2 separate regions of the Homo sapiens genome follow, and region 1 is linked to region 2. A link means that fine-mapping ties the variant in region 2 to the expression of a gene that starts in the linked region. Tissue or cell type: whole blood. Region 2 holds a variant in brackets; the other region holds the start of a gene. All regions are shown on one strand. Distances are between the middles of the regions. Region 1 holds the start of LSMEM1 (leucine rich single-pass membrane protein 1). Region 2 holds the start of LOC105375457 (a long non-coding RNA gene).

Region 1 (9,926 bases), 35 kb after region 2:
CTTGCATGGCCCCTGTTAACTCTTTGTTTTTCTCCTTCATTCTTTGTGTGTGTTTTATAAACATTTAAATGTTTATAGGGTCAAATTAGTTCATTTCTTTTCTTTGTGACTTTTACCCTTTTTCTGTTTTGTAAGAATATCTTAAGTCTTACTGATGCACGTTTTTCCTTTTTTTCATTTTAGCATTTATATAACTCTGCAGCCTTCAAAGCTCGAACCAAAGCTAGAAGCAAATGTCGAGATAAGAGAGCAGATGTTGGAGAATTCTTCTAGATTTTCAGAACTTGAAGACTATTTTCTAATTTCTATTTTTTTTTCTATTTCAATGTATTTAAACTCTAGACACAGTTTTTATCCTGGATTAACTTAGATAACTTTTGTAGCAGTGGTTATATTGCTTATAATTTAATGTACAATACTATTGAAACTGGTGAGTTCTGATTATTAAATATTCTCTGTAAATCAGTAAACATGTATAAAGTATTTGTAATGTTTGGTCATAATTTATTTATGAAGACAGCAAAAGACTGATTTCATGATGGGGAAAACAATTAGCCAAAGTTTAATTTCTTACACTGTGGTTGTCAAGAATACTGATTTACTATAATGATATATACATGCAAGATATTTAACTTAATATCTTAGACAAGAGTTCTGGGTACAATTTTGGGATCTAGTTCCCCTGGAAAAGCTGCTGTATTTTTAATTTTTAATGGAATGTAGCTTTTAAAATCCTGTCACTGGCATCAACAAAAGGAATTATACCATGAGACCTTATAGCTGTACTTAAAAGCCATTCAGTTCAGCTATTGGGAGTTCATGATGAATTAGCATATGCCAGAAAGGTTGCTAACCTTAACATCTGAGAGCAGTAACACTGATTTTATCTGCTGTATGAGACTTTGTGCATTTTACTTTGAAATAAAGATTTTTTTCCACACTGAAAGTGCTTCTCTTCTAATAGAAGAAATATTATTTATGGCTTTGAGGTACAGAGTCCAAAATGACTAGGCCAGGTGGGCAGGGAGACAAAGCTTTATGTGTATATTTACAAACATTAAAGTAGATGAAAAGAATGTAGCAATACATAATTGGGATTAAGGTTTCTGACTTTCAAGAATATTTCTGCTTGGCAACATGCAGTGTGGCTCATGCCTATAATCAGCACTCTGGGGAGGCTGAGGCGGGAGGATGGCATGAGCCCAGTTTGAGACCAGCCTGGGCAACATAGCGAGACCCTGTCTCTACCAGAAATTTAAAAAATGAGTGTGGTGGTGTGTGCTTCTACTCTTTATCTACTTGGGTGCTGAGGCAAGAGGGTAACTTGAGCCCAGGAGGTCAAAGCTGCAGTGAGCCGTGATTGTGCCACTCCAGCCTGGGTGACGAGTGAGACCTTGTCTCAAAAGCAAAACAAAAAAGAATATTGCTGCTTGTTTGCCCATGAGGTATATTTCTTTCATTTTATGAAAAGCATTTTGACAACACGTTAACATTTAATAAACTTTAGATTAAAATATATAGTGCAAGCAACATGCCATTTCAAATCCGTAGACTTGTTTCTTTGATACTCTTGCTGTAGGTCGCCGTGAGGGGTAGGGAAGCATATATACTGTAGGGAGAAGTATCAAAATCATTTAAGGTCTTTTTTCCAAACTAGTGTTCCCCTCCCACATCCCAACAACTCTTGGAAGTCTGGTGCTCCCTCTAGGTGAAAATCATTTGCTGGCTTATGGAGTCACTGTTGCTGAGTCCCATCCCCCAGTTACAGTGCAGTGGAAAACAGGTTTAGAATCTAGAACTTGTTTGTATGTTGTCACTTGGTTATGTTCCAAGTAGGTTAGAACCATGGAAAAGAGATTGCAAATGGTAGTTTCTTCTAGATATTCAAATGCATATATGTATGTACATGTAATTATAAATAAATAATGAATTTTTATTAAAGTGTTGTATGAACATAGGTTTTTGTTTGTTTTTGAGACAGTCTCCCTCTGTTGCGCAGGCTGGGGTGCAGTAGCGCAATCTTGGCTCACTGTAACCTCTGCCTTCAGGGTCCAAACGATTCTCCTGCCTCAGCCTCCTGAGTTGCTGGGATTACAGGTGTGTTCCACCACACCTGGCTAATTTATATTTTTAGTTGTGATGGGGTTTCACCATGTTGGCCAGGCTGGTCTTGAACTCCTGACCTCAAGTGATCTGCCCGCCTTGGTCTCCCAAAGTGTTGGGATTACAGGCATGAGCCACCGTGCCCAGCCTGAACATAGTTTAATGGTACTTCAAGGCTAATAAGGAAAGCCCCTTGCTCCATCCTTTCCTATTCCTCAGTCCCATCCCAAGAGACATTCAGCCTTCAGTTTTTTCTAGCTCGGTTCTTTCAGCCTTCAGTTTTTGGTTTTAGGTTTCTAAATAATATGATTATACAGCCATTTATTTTTTAGGTGTTTGTCAACTTACTATTAAGACAGGTGAAAATTTCTTTTATTGTTTCACATCCTTCTAATATTATTTTGGTTAGATCATGTACCTGTTTGCATAGCTGTGATCATACTTGTATGTTCACTCGTGAATTAATTTAATGTGCTTACATTTTCATTCTCATACAACGTTTTGTCTTGGAGTTAATGCTCTTTTTTTTGGCTTTTTATGCACATCATTGATTCTTCCCAAACAGTCCCAAATAAATTTGTCACAACTTTTCTTGATTCTGTACTTGTTTCAATCTAGACTAGTTTCTCTCATCCAATTGTATAGCAGTTTTCCTGAGACAGCACTATCGTGAGGATTTGTTTTTCTTTCTCTTGAATTGTATCCCTCATTTTCTGGATCCCATGTCTTAATTTACTTCTTTGTTAACATGGAGCACTTCTTTCAGTAGTTTCTTGGGAATGAGTGCGTGAGAGATCAGTCAGTTATTTAGTGACTTCATATTTCTGAAAGATAGTTTGCATGGAAATTCTAGGTGGAAAATCAAATTTGGAATTTTTGAAAATTTTGACAAGTGTATTCAAATTCAGAATTTTGAAGGCATTGCTCTATTCTAATTTGCAAAATCTTGAGATATCTGATGCAGTTTTTATTTTTATTTCTTTGTTTTCTCAGCATCTCTGTTTCTAGTGTTCTAAAATTGCATGATACTGTGCTTTGGTGGGATTGGCAACCTGGAAAATATTAAGTTCTTCATCTCTTCTCTTCCTCCTCATTTTCTTTGTTCTGGAACTCTATGACATAGTGGAGCTCCCAAATTGAATCTTGGGCCTTATTTATTTTTTTTTTTTCTGTCTGGGATATTTCTCTAAGACAATTTTCCAATTTGTATTGCATTTTGTTTTTGGCTAGCATTAAATTACTTGCCTCTGTGTAGCTCCATGCCACACTCTTGCCTCTAAATCCTAGGCCTGCCTGAATTCTGCAGGATCAGTCCTACTGTCACTCATCTGTGATAGCCCTGCTAAGGCAGATACCACTCTTCTTACCATGTTCAATACATTTATTGAGCTCTTCAGTATTGTTTCTTCCTATTTTAATTTTTCTGGTTTTGTAATTTGTACTCCTGCTTTTTTACTGGGCTTTTGGGAGGAAGAAGGTATAGAGTGTTAATCTGCATGTTGAATTTATATGCAGGTGACTTTATTCATGAAACTTGTGGTAACTGCTAGACAAGGGTGGCTGGGTGTTCAATGTGTAAGAATGCTTGTGTTTTCTTGAAAGTAGAAAAATGTTGTGTTATAGACTAGTTGTTCATTGCTTGATTCTTGATTAATTTTGCCCGCTTTCATTATTTTGAGGCTCAAGCATTTTGAAGTATTCATTGTCTGTGACTCCTCTTTGATGGGTACTAAATTTCCTGGGAGTGAATTTAGATACCCTGAGATGTAATATATGAAAGAAAAAGCAAATACTTGAGAATGTCCCTAGATTAGACACTTCATGTGAGAATATCTCTTTTTGTGACCCAAAACTCTTTTTTTTTCTTTTGAGATGAAGTTTCGTTTTTGTTGCCCAGGCTGGAGTCCAATGGTATAATCTGCCTCAGCCTCCTGAGTTGCTGGGATTACATGCATGTGCCACCACACCCGGCTAATTTTGTATTTTTAGTAGAGATGGGGTTTCTCCTTGTTGGTCAGGCTGGTCTCGAACTTCCGACCTCAGTTAATCTGCCTGTCTCGGCCTCCCAAAGTGCTGGGAATACAGGCATGAGCCACCGCACTCGGCCCCAAAACTCTTCTTAAAGGTGGTCTTGCAGGTATGTTATAGTTAAAATGAAGTAGGTTGTCTTGCTTTGTTCTTAAGTGGCTTTCCAGAAGTCTAACTGGTCTAAAGGCAGTCTTATCCCCCTCACTGGTGTATAGTTCAATTCAGACTTGAATGCGAGGTATGGGTTTACATCTCATCTCTGCCACTTATAATCAGTGTATCCCTCAACAATTAAATTCCTTAGTCTCCATTTCCTTCCTCCTTCAGGGGAAGTTAATATTCCACAAAGTTAGAAGTTACAGGAGAGGAAAAGTAGTAAACGCCCCAAAATGAGGCAGTTACTTCTATTATATCTTCAAAGGATACATGGCTCAAGGCAGATCAGGTAGTTGGGAGATTTCTTAAAAACAGCATAATAGCTAACATGAACATTTTCATTATTCAGAGAAATTTGACATAGCTTTTTAACGTATGTTTCTGAGAAAAGTTACTAGTTATATTGTCTTCCTCCAAGAATTAGTCTTTGGGTACAGATGAGGCTTGAAAAAATGACATTCCCTCTTAGACTAGGTAGTGTGAAGGGAAAAAAAAAATGACATTCCTCTTCCCCCAAAGCAGAGTGAGGTCCGTATGGGATATAGGTGTAAAGAAAATTTTGGGCCGGGCATGGTGGCTCAAGTTTGTAATCCCAGCACTTTGGGAGGCCGAGGTGGGTGGATCACTTGAGGTCAGGAGTTCAAGACTAGCCTGACCAACATGGTGAAACCCCATCTCTACTAAAAATAAAGAAATTAGCCAGCTATGGTGGCACATACCTGTAATCCCAGCTACTTGGGAGGCTGAGGCAGGAGAATCTGGAAGCAGGAAGGTCTCAGTAGGCTGGGATCATGCCACTGCGCTCCAGCCTGGGCAACACAGCAAGACTCTGTCTCAAAGAAAATTTTGTGGAACACCTATTTTCTCACTGACATGAAAAATGTTTCAAAGATGAATAATGTCCATCAAGCTATGGCAATGGAAGTGAGGATGATAAAGGATTGCACAGTTGTTCACAACCTCACTGTTAGTATCCTGCTGAGATAGTTGGTCTCCTCATCACTGTAGCATCTTTTATGTACAGCAGAGGGCAGAAGCTCCTTGGCATGTATGTGAGGGAACCACATATATGGAAGGCTGTTATTCCTGAGAAAGGAGGATGTGCAGACACTCACAGAACAAAGCCTTTGTAAAGGAAAGGCGGCCGATGAGATGGAGTGCTTCCTTCACCTGTGGTGGGTCTGTATCCATGAAATCGCCCACTCACAATCGCTTTTTGTAGCTACTGGAAGCACTAGGCGTCTGACCTGCCATCATCCTTGTTATGATGTCATAATCATATTCTGTCCGTGTTTATTGCAGTTCTCTGGTTTGTCTGGAGTGTTTGCAAGTCAGTCATCATAGTGGCAGCTTCCGCCTGCTACAGGATATTTATATATGGAAGCATACCATGGCAGGAGTGCTGGAAAGGTGGTGTCAGCTAACAGTTGCTTCAGCCAGATAAGGACGGTAACTTCAGTCCAATAAAAACCTCATCAGTTACCAACTAAATCAGGGCATGGTGTTTTTTTGTTGTTTTCTTTTTAAAGCATAGTTTTAGTAATATATTTACTAAAAACCTTAGACATTATGAAAAAAGTCAGGATTTGGAATCTTACACTGCTTGGCTAAATTGACACAATATAGACCAACAGTTTCATCCTGGGGCTTATGGGTCTCATAGGAGCACCCGTATGCTGAAGAAAGGCAAAGAGAGAACTACAGAATTTGTAGAAAAGTTTTGTTGTAGTTGCTTCTGAACAATTAGTTTTTGTTTGTTTGTTTTGTTTTGTTTTGTTTTTCTGGTAACCTAGCAGTCAAAGCTCACATTTTTGTAAGTAATTTGCATGCTATTACTCTACTGAGACTGAATTATGATTCTCGAGTCTGGGAAGTTTTTGTTGCATGTGCTCTGTGTTTTTCATTTTTGATAGAAATGATTTAGACTTGATTTTAAAAATTACTTCCTGAATGTGAAGAGGCATTGACTGGGAAATGAAATTAAAGAACAAATTACCATGACTCATTCAATAACACTGCTTATTAGCTTTGAATTATGCCCTATTATAACAATTCTGATTTTGTGGCAAGCAATACTGGTGTGAGTTATTTCTGTGGTTTGATACCAAGCACCTGCCTGGTTAAAAAATAAAGCACCAGGCAATTTTTCATAGACAATTATCTTTATTTGTTGGAATATTTATTTGTAAATAGTCAAAGAATTCTTAAATGACAAAAAATCAACTGTTAGCAGTGATCTAAACCAGAGGAAAATGAAATTACTTACATGTTTCCAGTCAAGGTATAAGAAAGGGTTCTGTTAAAGGGATGCTGCTTTAGCCAATCTTGGTGAATAAGCAAATTTGCACACTGGAGTTGAAAGGAGGGTCAAGTTAGTGTGATGAAGAATTGCTAGTAACACTGGCTTCTCCAGCCTTGCTGGTTGTTCCTAGATGCCCTCATTTGGAGATGCCAAAGATAGCAACTACTGGGTGTCAAACAGCCGTGGGGCCTGGTTTTAAGGCCATGTGATCTTGTATCCCTTTACTAGCAGCCTCATGAGTCATTTGCAAGTCATTTGCAGGCTCTTGGAGCCCTGGAACAGCACCCAACTCAGTTTTCTCTGCTAGTTCTTTATTTTTCCATTTGCGTGTTGCAGCTCATTAAAAAAATATTGGAATAGCATATATTTACATTGTGACTTCACTCTAAAGAAGACATTTTCTTTCAAAGCACGTCATGGCTCACTAGGTTGTTGTCTTAGTTTTTTTTGGAGTCACCTTTTGAGTAGATAGCAAGACCAGTAATATGGAGATTTTATTAGCTGTACTCTTAAAGTCAGTTTTTGTGGCCATGATTTTCTAGCTAGGTCTCTATTTTGTAAACATTGATTAAGCCTCAGTATGAAATTGAAGCAACAGCAGATACATTCCTGAAGGGGAAGCTAAGGCTCAAGGCTATTAAGTCAGAGATCCAAAAATGAACCATGCTTCAGTTACCACACCTAAAATAGAAGCTGTGTGCAGAACAGTGGTCCTGTGATGTGACACATAAAACTTTTTTTCCTGGTCACATATTACTGTTTGGTCAAATATTAGTATAAATGGATGATAAAATATGAAACACATCTAAAAGAATTGTTTTAAAATCTGTGACTATGCATGAGTGAATATTTTGGGGCCTTGGTTTTAACTGCAAAAGGATAAGATTTGACTGACCTCTAAGGCCCTTTTACTCTATTTGCTGCTGCTTTTTAATTTTTTTTAATTGTCATATCAAGTCATTTCCTTAGGAATGCTCTATGAAGTATATTTGGAATTCAGTAATGTCAATAAAGTGCTATGGTAGTATCTTATCTGAAAACTCAGGGAATTGTTTGTTCTTGTTAATTAAAATTTCAAGATAAGTGAAACACACTTTTTTAGTTTTAACCCTAAAAAAAATTTTTAGTCCATGACTTTTTGAGCTCACTTTCTTAGCTAGGGTTCTGGTAGCACATTTTTCACAAGTACCAGTAGTTTTAGGTATTACTGGGAAATTGTTTTTTTAATATTTTAGACTAAGTTTAAATTGCTCAGTAAGTGTCTGATACTTTTTTTCCCCACATCTTCTTTAGGTGTATACTTTTTTTTTTTTTTTATGAATTTGGTTTCTCCCAACTCTATATTGCTCTTCATTCTGTAGATGAGTTTTAAAGGAAATTTTTGCAACAACAGAAAGTAAACAGTGTGTTGTCAAATACACACAGGCACCATATTTATCGCATTGACTTTACTAGAGTCCAGATAGACATCACATGAGGATTTTTATCCTCAATCTTATTTCTGTTCATGTACTTATTATTAACTGCCTCCAATTCTTTTGAAAATGGTGAGATTTAAATCCTAAATAAACATTTCAGGTGTTCCATCTTAACATAAGTCACCAACTTCTAAACCTGGCACTGGGCATTTGAAGAATAGGATTCGTCCCTACTCTAAGGAGTTTTCAGTCTATCGGGAAATCAAAGATGTAAGCAAATAGATGCAATAAAATACTACAGATGTTCTGATAGAAGAATGTAAAGAATCCAGCAAAGGCAAAAGGAAAGACAGGTTGGTTCTCTCTTCCTAGGGGAAGTGATGTTTGAGCTGAGTCTTGAGGCAGGATTAGGAAGGGATATAGAAAAGAAAAGTAGCACAAAGCAAGACTCATTGAATGCTGAACAAAAGGCCCGATTCCAGCTCTGCTGCCAGGCAAATGTGTGATCCTGGGCATTTACCTCGCCGAGCTTCCATTTCCTCATTTGCGGAAAGGATGGGAACTAAAGCACATCTAACACCCTTTCTAGATCCAAACATCCTCTATCACGATTAGACTTGATAACCATGAAAGGAAAAGCTTTTATAGTAATTGAAATTTGTCTTTCTAGAGGCTTCTTTTCACATAATTAAATGGCCACAAGTTCTCTGTTGTGCTAGAGATACATCTCCACATAAACCTTTTAAACTCTTCAGGATTTTCAGTGTTGCTTGCAGTTGTGCTGTCGTTAGAGAATATTACTTTCAATATTTAATAAACCTCAAGCTATTACATAAGTGACCTCAGTCTAAGGGAAACCCAGGTGGAAGAGATCTCAGAGGTCCTGAAGTCTAGCAGCATTCCTCTCTATAGCAGCTAAGTTTGCTAAGATTGTTGTCTTGGGGACTCACAGTCAGCATCTTATGGCTAAAGGAATTGTGTGAAGAGAAGGACTTACATGCCATATGGAGGGAGGCTATAAAAATTGCAATTTTCTATTAAAGCCTCCTGCAATTAGAATGGTTCATGGTAATATTCTCTTTTTTCAGAATGTTTTGTGGCCACTGCTGACTAGCTTAATTTTGTCTACCTAGTCTTCTTGCACAAAGGATTTGAGGCATCTCACCAGAATGTGAACAATGTAATAAAAGAAAAATTTTAAAATTAGTTACAAAATAAAAACAGATCCAGGGAAAATATAGGCAGAACTGAGACATCTGAGGAGGAGAAAAGAGTGTTTGCAGATAAGCAGGGTATACATGGATGTACAATTCTTAAAATTGGGCCACACATTTGACTGTGAGCTTCCTGGCAAGCAAAGCAAAAAGAACGATTACAAAGTGGTCCACAGAAGGAAATATTTTTTTCTGGATAAGCCAAGTTCTCTAGAGCCTTAGTTGAAAATACTATTTGTGGGTGGTTCTTCATAGGCCTGTCTGGCTTCCTGGTGGCTGTGGTTCTTGTGAAGTTGAGTTCACAAGCCCAACCTCTTGTTTTTAACATCAGTGTTTTCTTCCAGGGACAATGACTCATTCTTCCCAGGACACTGGTTCTTGTGGCATTCAGGAAGATGGAAAGCTTTATGTGGTGGATTCCATAAATGACTTAAACAAACTAAACCTCTGTCCAGCCGGATCGCAGCATCTGTTCCGTATGTGTGCTGGGGAAGGCACAGCAGCCCTTCCTAGCTTCTAGGCTACCTAAAAATAGCCACTGCTGACTGGATGTGTGGGTGTGGTGGAGGGGGAGGGGGCATTAGGAAGAGGTTGGCACTGGAAATGTTATTTGTTGTTGGGCAATTTTGCTTTTGTTTTCTGAATACTTGACAGGATTATGGGCTTTCTTGGATCCTACACGAGATTTGAACTCTTGACTTCAAA
Region 2 (9,678 bases):
CTCTGCCTCCTGGGTTCAAGAAATTCTCCTGCCTCAGCCTCCAGAGTAGCTGGGACTACAGGCGTTCGCCACCATGCCAAGCTAATTTTGTATTTTTAGTAGAGATGGGGTTTCCCAATGTTGGCTAGGCTAGTCTCGAACTCCTGACCTCAAGTGATCTGTCTGCCTTGGCCTCCCAAAATGCTGGGATTACAGGTGTGAGCCACGGCACTCGGTCACAAAAGCCTTTCTTGAATGGAATGAAAATATTTACTAAGTGTGTCTTATTTATATAAGGCTGATAAATCTTTTAGCAGTCTCAGCAGTTTGATAAATGGTTAGTTTTCTCTCTTGATTTTAATAAAACAATTAACATAATTATAATTTAAAGACTATTTTAAATAAATATTTAAATGTGATAAGCCTGGTACGGTCAATTCAGTTTGGCATAGGTTTTTAAAGTGTCTGTTCAGAATTCTTTTGGCTGGATTGGTTCACAATAAATATCAGTAATGATGAATGAAATTTGGCAGTTCACTCATTCTCCATAATTTAGAAAGGTGCTAACATGCCTCCAAAGTGTTAGAGAATCTGTTCCTACTTCCTACTGCCTTTCATCTGAGTGTAAAAGATAGGCTTTTAAAGTCCCACTTGCAAATGCCTGGACAGTTTTCTGGAACTCCAAGAGACACTAATCAAAAAAACAGAGGAGTGCTAAGGAGAAACTGTAAACTATCCTAGTTTGCAAGAAATAAAAACTGACTGGACCTAACTTGAGCATAAGAAACAATTTATTTTAAAAGTTCAGGCTGGGTGCAATGGCTCACCCCTGTAATCCCAGTACTTTGGGACGCCAAGGTGGGCGGACTGTGTGAGTCCAGGAGTTCCAGACCAGCCTTGGAAACATGGCAAAACCCCGTCTCTACAAAAAATACAAAAATTAGGCTAGGCAGGGTGGCTCACACCTGTAATCCCAACACTTTGGTGGGAGGCTGAGGAGGGTGGATCATGAGGTCAAGAGATTTGAGACCGTCCTGGCCAACATGGTGAAACCCTGTCTTTACGAAAAACACAAAAATTAGCTGGGCGTTCGTGGTGTGCGCCTGTAATCCCAGCTACTTGGGAGGCTGAGGCAGAAGAACTGCTTGAACCTGGGAGACGGAGGTTGCAGTGAGCCAACACCACGCCACTGCACTCCAGCCTGGGCAATAGAGTGAGATCCTGTCTTAAAAAAAACAAAAACAAAAACAAAAACAAAAATTAGCCGAGCATGGTGGTGCACACCTGTAGTCCCAGCGGCTTTGGAGGCTGTGGTGGGAGGGTTACCTGACCTCAGTGAGCTGTGATCGCACCACTACACTCCAGTCTGGGTGAGAGGCAAGACACCATCTCAGAAAAAAAAAAAAAGTTCAGGATGTTCCCTGGAAGCCTAAGGCAGGAATTCAATTGAGTCTCTGGTAGTTCTGCCTACCTGGAAGTGGAAGCTCATGACGAGATGGGAAGATCCATTTCTTGTCTCTGCTTCTCTCTACAGTCCTGTTTCATTCTCTCCTCTCTGCAAACTGTCTTTCTTGTTTTTTCATGTCTGTGGTGGGCAGATGATAGCTACTTTTTATTCTCTGCTCAGAAGACAGTCCAGAATCTTTGAGTGTCTCTCAGTTCTAATTCTGAATTCCAAGGAGAGAGAATCTGATTTACAAATAATGCTGAGCTCTCGTGCTAGACTAGGAACTTTATGAGGCCAAATACTCTATTTTCAGGCATCCCTTTGTCTCATGCTCTAGAACATGCTTAGTATATAGTGGACACCTGAGGAATGTTTGTTGAAGGAACTGAGACTTTTCCAAAAATGATGACTATCCAGTGTTGAAACTAGCGGCCCTGAAGAGTTGTGTGATTCCTAGCACTCGCAGAATTTAAGAAAAAAATGGATAAATATCTGCTTACTAATATTAATGGCTAACATGTACTGTTTCATACATTCCTCATTCATATAGCTTAGATTAAGGAACTTGCACACAGTCACCAAACTAGTAAGTGGTTGATAAGGCATTTTGACTCTAGTTCTGTCTGTCTGGATCTAAAACTCGGTGACCCTCCAGCACAGTATATGGCCTCCAATAAGATTTTTAGGAGCAATGCTGGAGGCCTGGTTGAGTCAGTCTAGTCTTGTCCTTATAAGTCTGATCTGGGGCTTAGTAAATTTCTCCTGTTAACCACTTTATCAGCTCCCAGCCAAAAGATCTTCCCTTGCTTACTGATGTCTAAAATTCCATCTTTAGCAGAGTCATTTCTTTCTTTGGTTTAATATAAGGAGTATCTCATCATTATAGAGTACGTGGCAGGTTACAAAGACCTTTACATAATGATGTCATTTTTATGACAATCCAGTGACATCAATAAGGCAGGGATTATTGACTCCCATTTTTGAGATAAAGAAATGGAGGTTCACTGCTGCTAGGTGACTTGCTCCAGAAGAGATGACTGAACTCTCCAGGGAGCCTATGGACTCACCGCTTAGGGGTAGAGAGGAGGAACCTCTTTGGTCATGTCCCTGGGGGTGGGCAGTGAAAGCTGATCCATCAAGAGAGAAGCAAGAGTCACCTCCAAATGGGCTGAGAGGGACGGACAGCCACGGGCCACCTGGTACTGAGTTCTGTTGCTGGACTAGGGACTTTATGAGGACAAACACTGTTTTCAGTCATCTCTTTGTTCTCATGCTCTAGAACATGCTTGGTATATAGTGGACACCTGAGGAATATTTGTTGAAGGAATTGAGACTTTTCAAAATATGACAAATATCCACTGTTGGAATGAGCTTCCCTGAAGAGTTGTGTGAGTTCTAGCACTGTCAGAGTTTAAGAAAAAATGATAAATATCTGTTGACTAATATTAATGGCTAACATTGTTTACTATGTGCTGAGTACTGAGCTAAGTACTTTACTTGTATTGTTTCATGTATTCCTCATTCCAACCACATGAAATAGGTTCTATCATTAATCACATTGAAACCAAGGCATGGAAGAGTGAAGTTACTTGCTCAAGAATCCATTGCAAATAGTATGGCCAGGATTTGAACCCTGGAATACTGAGTTAGAGCCTTGGATCTTAATCATGTTGTCAGTCGTTTCCCAGGTGAGGCAGGAGTCTGAAGTAGGTTACCCCTTAAGAAATTTTCAACTATTTAAGATTCTCTGGTGGTTGGCCGTAAGATTAGTACTACCACACGGAGAAAGCTGGGAACAAGAACTGGTTGTAGACTGGGTGTGGTGGTTCATGCCTGTAATCCCAGCACTTTGGGAGGACTGCTTGAGCCCAGGAGTTTGAGACCAGCCTAGGCAACACAGCAAGACCTCATTTCTACAAACATAAATAAGTAAATTAGCTGGGATACATGCGTCTGTATCCCAGCTACTCAGGAGGCTGAGACGGGAGGATTGCTTGAGCCCAGGAGGTCAAGGCTGCAGTGAGCTGTGATGGCACCACTGTACTCCAGCCTGGATGACAGAGGGAGACCCATCTCAAAAAAAGCCCCCCAAAAACGGCCGAGTGTGGTGGCTCATGCCTGTAATCCCAGCACTTTGGGAGGTCGAGGTGTGTGGACCACTTGTCAGGAGTTCGAGACCAGCCTGGCCAACATGATGAACCCCGTCTTTACTAAAAATACATAAATTAGCCAGGCATGGTGGTGAACGCCTGTAATCCCTCGGGAGGCTTTGGCAGGAGAATTGCTTGAACCCGGGAGGTGGAGGTTGCAGTGAACCGAGATCGCACCATGGCACTCTAGCCTGGGTGACAAGAGTGAAACTCTGTTTCAAAAAAAAAAAAAAACCCAAAAAACAAACACCATCCCCCACCAAAAAAACAAAAACAAAAACAAAAAAACAAAACTAGTTGTAGAATGTAGAGAGGTTGGTAAAGAACAAGTTGATTTTGGTTATGTTTGGTATGAAGAGTCAGGATATCCAAATGGAAAAGTCCACTGATATTCTTTATGTTCAACAAAAAGATAATTCCTACTTACGCTGTTGCCATAAAAAGTTCTTCCAACATAATGCGTCATAACTATCCTAGTTTGGCTGTGTGTATTATGGTACTTATGGCTCACAGTACCCTGTTAACACAGTCTCATATTTTATTATTGATAATACTGCAGCTTTGTGAGATAAGCAACATTCCCATTTTAGAAGACAATTAAACACTGACTGTCTTTTGTCAGAAATTTCATTACAGAAAGTGTATGTAATTTCAAAACTGAAAACCACAAAGAAGTATCTTCTACACAACAAAAAGAAAAAAGCAAACAAAATATATCTTAAGGCTTAAAGAGTTCTAACTAAATTTGCCCGCCGAATCATTTCTTAACAAACAGGGATCTCAAATTTAGCATGCTGTATTATCACCATTCTTGGCAATAAAACAAAAATTGCAAACATATTAAGAAAACAATGCAATCTAAAACACAACAAGTGATAATCCATGTAAAAAATTATTTGATGGAATAACATTACTATTTAATAATAAAGTTCTGCTAAAGCTTTAGAAATATCAGAAAAAACTTACACTGGCAAACATTCATCAGGCAGTCAACAACTGAATGTCCCCTGTATACTGATACTAGGGGTGAAGAGACTCTAAAAAAAAGGGGAACAAGGCAAAATTTAACTTCAAGGGGCCTTTTCTCGCAGCATTGCAAATAAAACCCATGACTCTGGACATAAAAAAGCAACAGTGACACTGGGGACTACTAGAGGCGGGAGGGATGGAGGGGGAAAGAGTTGAAAAACTACTGGGTGCTATGCTCACTACCTAGGTGACGGGATCATTCATATCCCAAACCTCAGCATCATGCAATATAACCATGTAACAAACCTGTACATTATACCCTGAATCTAAAAGTTGAAATTATAAAAAAGCAAACAAGAAAACCCATGACTCCTAGGAACAAGCACTCAGGTTCCCATATGACCAAAGCCAGCCAGAGGCAAACTTGGAATCAGATAGGCCTAGGCTTTCTTTTTTTTTTTTTTTTTTTTTTGAAACAGGGTCTCGCTCTGTCACCCAGGCTGGAGTGCAGTGGCGCAATCTCGGCTCACTGCAAGCTCCGCTTCCCGAGTTCATGCCATTCTCCTGCCTCAGCCTCCCGAGTAGCTGGGACTACAGGCGCCCGCCACCACGCCCGGCTAATTTTTTATATTTTTAGTAGAGACGGGGTTTCACCGTGTTAGCCAGGATGGTCTCGATCTCCTGACCTTGTGATCCGCCCACCTTGGCCTCCCAGAGTGCTAGGATTACAGGTGTGAGTTACCCCGCCCGGCCGGCCTAGGCTTTCATCACAACAGACGCA[C/T]TGTTTACCAATGGTACGACCTTGGGGAAGTTGCAAAACCTCTCTAAGCTCATTTCTTCATCCACAAAATGGTAAAACTAATCTTTTCTGCGTAGGGTTGTTGTAAGAATTACATGAGAGGTGTGAAAACAGTCTAGAACAGTGGCAGTGTGGACTTGCAATAAATGTTAGCCTCATCCTTTTCCCCACATTAGTTCCTTTGCTTTTAAGAAAACTGCTAAAATACAGAGGAAATTGACTCCCTCATTCAATTAAAAACACAGTTATTGTCTACTGGGCCACTATGTACAGATGTATAGGTTGTTCCCTGCTGAAGAGAGATTGGTGACTGGATTCCAGCCCATAAACACTCATCAGACTTGGTGTTCTGTTTCTAATTTGCACAAAGGTGCTACATGTGTGTTTCAGAAGTGACAAAACTGGGCTTTGCCCACAAGTAGCATGTAGCTTGTATCTCATGTCTGAGGGGAAAACAGACAAGTAATCAAGAACTACAATACATATTAAAAAAAAAGAAGTAAAAAAACCCTACAATACATATAATTAATGCTAGTCTAAAGAAGGCACTGCAAGAACAAAAAAGAAAGACATTTAAATCAGACAATTTGGGGGGCCCAGGATTAGTGACCGAGGATCAGTAACTTAAAGGATGATGGGGAGATCGTGGGGAAGGATGTTCTAGGCAGAGGAGTGACATTTAATTATTAATACATTTATTCATTCAGTAAATGTGTTTTGTTAGTTCATGTCTTTTATTAACTCATACACAATTAATTGTCTTCTGGTTTGCTGAAGCAATGAGACATTTGTCACAATAATGTCTGTCAAAGTGGCTGGCCATAAACGCTCCAGTACCACATTCATCTGAAGAGCACTCTAGATGAAGGCGACTTATTTTGCCATTCTCATCCACCTTACAGTATTTCAGGACAGCCAGCTTCACCTTCTTTCGCTTACGCTTATTCTTCTCAGGAGTGGTGTAAACATTCAGTAAAAAATAATTGAATATCTAAGTGCCACGTACTGTTCCAGTACTGAAGATACAATAGTGAATAAAACAGACAGGATCTCTTTCTTGTAATTCTAACATTCTAGTAGAAGAGACAAAAAATAATTGGGCCAAAAAATATTAAGTAGTGCGATGTACTTTGGGAGAATATAAGCAGGGTGGAGGTGCTGGTGGTAGGTGGGGTGAGGATGCGACCTTAGAATGGAGAGTGGAAGAGTGGGAGAGTAGGAAGGCCTCTTCAGGTAGGTGTCATTTAAGCTCAGATCTGAATGGCAAGTGTGGGAAGCTCGGGTTGATCATATCAGGCAGAGGGAGGAGCTGTTGCAAGTCTTAAGTGGGGAATGAACTTTGTGTTTTTAAGTTGGCAAAGACCAGTGTGGCTGAAATGCAGTGGATGAAAAGAGGGGCAGGAGATGCAATATGGAGAGAGAGGTATGTGCCAAACCTAGGTAAGGCCTGGAAGCTTGAGAGTGGTGAGCTCAGAGACCTGCTAAGAGTTTGATATGGCATTAGGAAAGGGACTGTGTTAGGTGATGAGAGAAGTGATTTGGGAGATACAGGCAAGAAACAGATTCCGACAAGCCCTACATGGAGGATCTGGGAGGTATTATTTCTGCTCAGTGCTATGCAGAGAATCCCAAGGAGGCCATGACTAAAGTCATTCAAAGAAAACCTTTCATGTTTATGCCTTCAAGGAAGGTATGAATACTGAATCTTATCTTTATTACTTGTTCTTGAATCAAAGTCATCAATGAGAACTTAGAACTCTTCTCAGGCGTGCCCCTAAATTCTGATTAATGTAAGATTTATTTTTGCAACATTTGAGTATACTTACCCTGATGGTGATTTCTGTTCCATGGAATGTTAAACTAAGTTGTTTTGTAAAAGAAGAATATATTTTACAATGACTTAAATGTTGAGGCAGCACATAATGTCATGTTGGTAACAAATATGTGATATTTATTTATTAGAGCATGAGAGTATTTTGCCTCCTGATATATGAGGCAGACATTGCTATTTGTCTACCTTATATCCATGGTTTCCCCTTCATTCTTAACAACAGAACCTCAATTTTGTTTGCGAATGAGCCCAACCGAAAATACTTGTGTTCTAAACTTCCTTGCAGCTAGGGATCATCCTGTGACACAGTTCTGGTCAACATGTAGGTGGAAGTTTCTAGGGAGTGTGGTCTTTCCTGAAGAAAAAGGCAAAGTCTGGAGAAAGCCCTTTTTCCTGTTCCCTTTCGTGCTTCCCCTTCCTTTCTGGTATTTGTAATCATTTAGTGACTTGATGTTTGGAGTCTTCTAATTTCTTTAAACATATTGCAAAATAGTATGTGGAGCTGAAGACCACTGTCCCATGAGGAGGTGGGCTACATCTTTGTGATGTTTGCACTGGTCTGGAGCTAAACTGCAGGCATAAAACTATAGTAAGGTAATTTTATCAAAAGTACAGTATCTCTCAGAATTCATTATACTGAAGGCTGTACTTCATGTTTGTAGTGATAAGTAGTTTCTCCCTTTCCTTGATCCAGAATGTATGTATGTAGTGATACATAAGTTTCTCCCTTTCCTTGATCCAGAAAAATCTAGTCAACAATTATTTCTTAAATGTTCATTTAACTATATATATACTGACTATAATTTCAATTTCAAATGTAACACTTCCTTTTGTGCCATGAGGGATACAGCAAGATTTTTTCAAGTTCCTGGGCCTGTAGATTTAAAAAAAAAAAAAAAAGAAAGAAAAGTAAGAAAAAAAGAAAAGAAATTAAAAAGAGGAAAAGATTTTTGTTCTTGGGAAGCTGATAATTTCATGAGATGACAGATGTATTCACAAATAAATGTAAAACAAGTACGTATATGATGTGGTGGGCCATGGCCAGGCCTGCCGCAGAACGACTAAGTGGATGTGAAGGGATTTGGAAAAAAAGCCCCTGCCCCAAATGCAAAGCACACGTTTCCAGGGCTGGAACCTGGATGTTAGGCCTAGGTGATGTGACTCCAGAGTGGCAAAACTGTTGCCTTATGTATAGTATAAATTGTTTCTGGATGGTGAAGAGCCTAGGGTTATAAAAGTTATTGAGTCTACAATTCTGTGAGACATCTCATTCTGTATAGGCCCTGTCACTGAGTTGCAGTGTGCCTCTAGATACAAGGAGTCAGTGTGAGCTGCTTCCTCCCCCACAACCTGCCTCCGTATTTGGTTTCTGTGCTCTGTGCAGTTTACTGGCTGCTTCAGGATTAAACAAAGTAAAAGCAACCCTGAAATGTTGCCCATTAAATAGCATCTTTGAGTAGGCCGTGTGGGGAGGTAATAAGTGCCATTAGGGCATTATTAGGATGAGTGTCAAAGAGTTGTGAGGAGGAAGAAACTTCTGGCTGGAGGCTTCAGGAAGGTGGCAGCATGAGCTACATCTTGAACGGTGGATAAAATTTCTTAAGGTGAAGATGGGAGGAAAGGCATTACAAGAACAGGAAAGAATATGAATGAGGAAATGGAGGTAGGAGAAGAGAGCCGTGTATTGGAAATGAAAAGCAGTCCTGTTTGGCTGAAGAACAAGAACTGTATGAGGAAGCAGTGAAAGATGAGGCTGGAAAGGGAGTCAGGGCCAGGCTAAAAGGGTTGGCATTTAAAGTTAGTCATGGGAGCCATGGAATGTTTTTGAGCAACTATTAAAGCAGGTGGATTAGTAAAATAGGGAACACACAAATAAATCTGGCAGCATTACTGTGCATGAAACATGGATGAAAAGACTGGGAGATCGCTTAAAATGCCCAGGCATGAACTGAGGTCACATGTGATCACAGAATAGGACAGGAATTTAAGAGTGCTATTTTAAAACTAATTGCTTTGCGGGTGGGGAGGGGGTGGTGCATCAAAGGGAAAAAAGACTATGAATTTGAGTTTTGGAATTTAACATATGGGAGGATAATAAATAGTACAGTGAACAAAGGGAAGACAGGAAGAAGGAAATATAGTATTCGTTTCAGAGATGTTGGGTTGAGGCACAAGTGGAACATTCTGGTGGAAATTTGCTACAGGCAATTGAAAATAGAATAGAGCTCAGCTGAGAGGTGGAGTGGCGGATGACTCACCTACATTGAGGTGAGTCAGGGACTTTGATCTGTCATAAGCATAGTATATGAACCTAATAACAGGCTCTAAATACTAGACAAATGTCCTAACAAGGAAGACAGAGATCTAGGAGTGCCTTGAGAAAAAAGGCAGCACTGCGATTATTGATCTGTATAACTTGTGTTTGTTTTACCAGCTGTGAAATTCTCAGAACTGGCAGGTAGTATTGTCAAGGGACACATTCTTGTATAGAAACCCACAACGC

The links.
Region 1: it holds the start of LSMEM1, and the variant in region 2 is fine-mapped to the expression of LSMEM1 in whole blood (TOPMed, PIP above 0.99).

The regions. Positions count from the first base shown.
Region 1 is chr7:112,475,247-112,485,172 of GRCh38, forward strand. It overlaps LSMEM1 (leucine rich single-pass membrane protein 1), which reads left to right and starts at 5,745. Exons shown (of 4, transcript NM_182597.3): 1 at 5,745-6,100; 2 at 9,566-9,697. The coding sequence starts at 9,571. IFRD1 (interferon related developmental regulator 1) reads left to right here. Exons shown (of 12, transcript NM_001550.4): 12 at 184-1,957. The coding sequence ends at 273.
Region 2 is chr7:112,440,068-112,449,745 of GRCh38, forward strand. LOC105375457 (a long non-coding RNA gene) reads right to left here and starts at 3,283. Exons shown (of 3, transcript XR_001745325.2): 1 at 2,238-3,283; 2 at 1,451-1,646. It also overlaps a transcript of IFRD1 not described here. RefSeq lists an enhancer at 9,483-9,678. The variant C/T (reference allele first, on the strand shown) is at 5,327.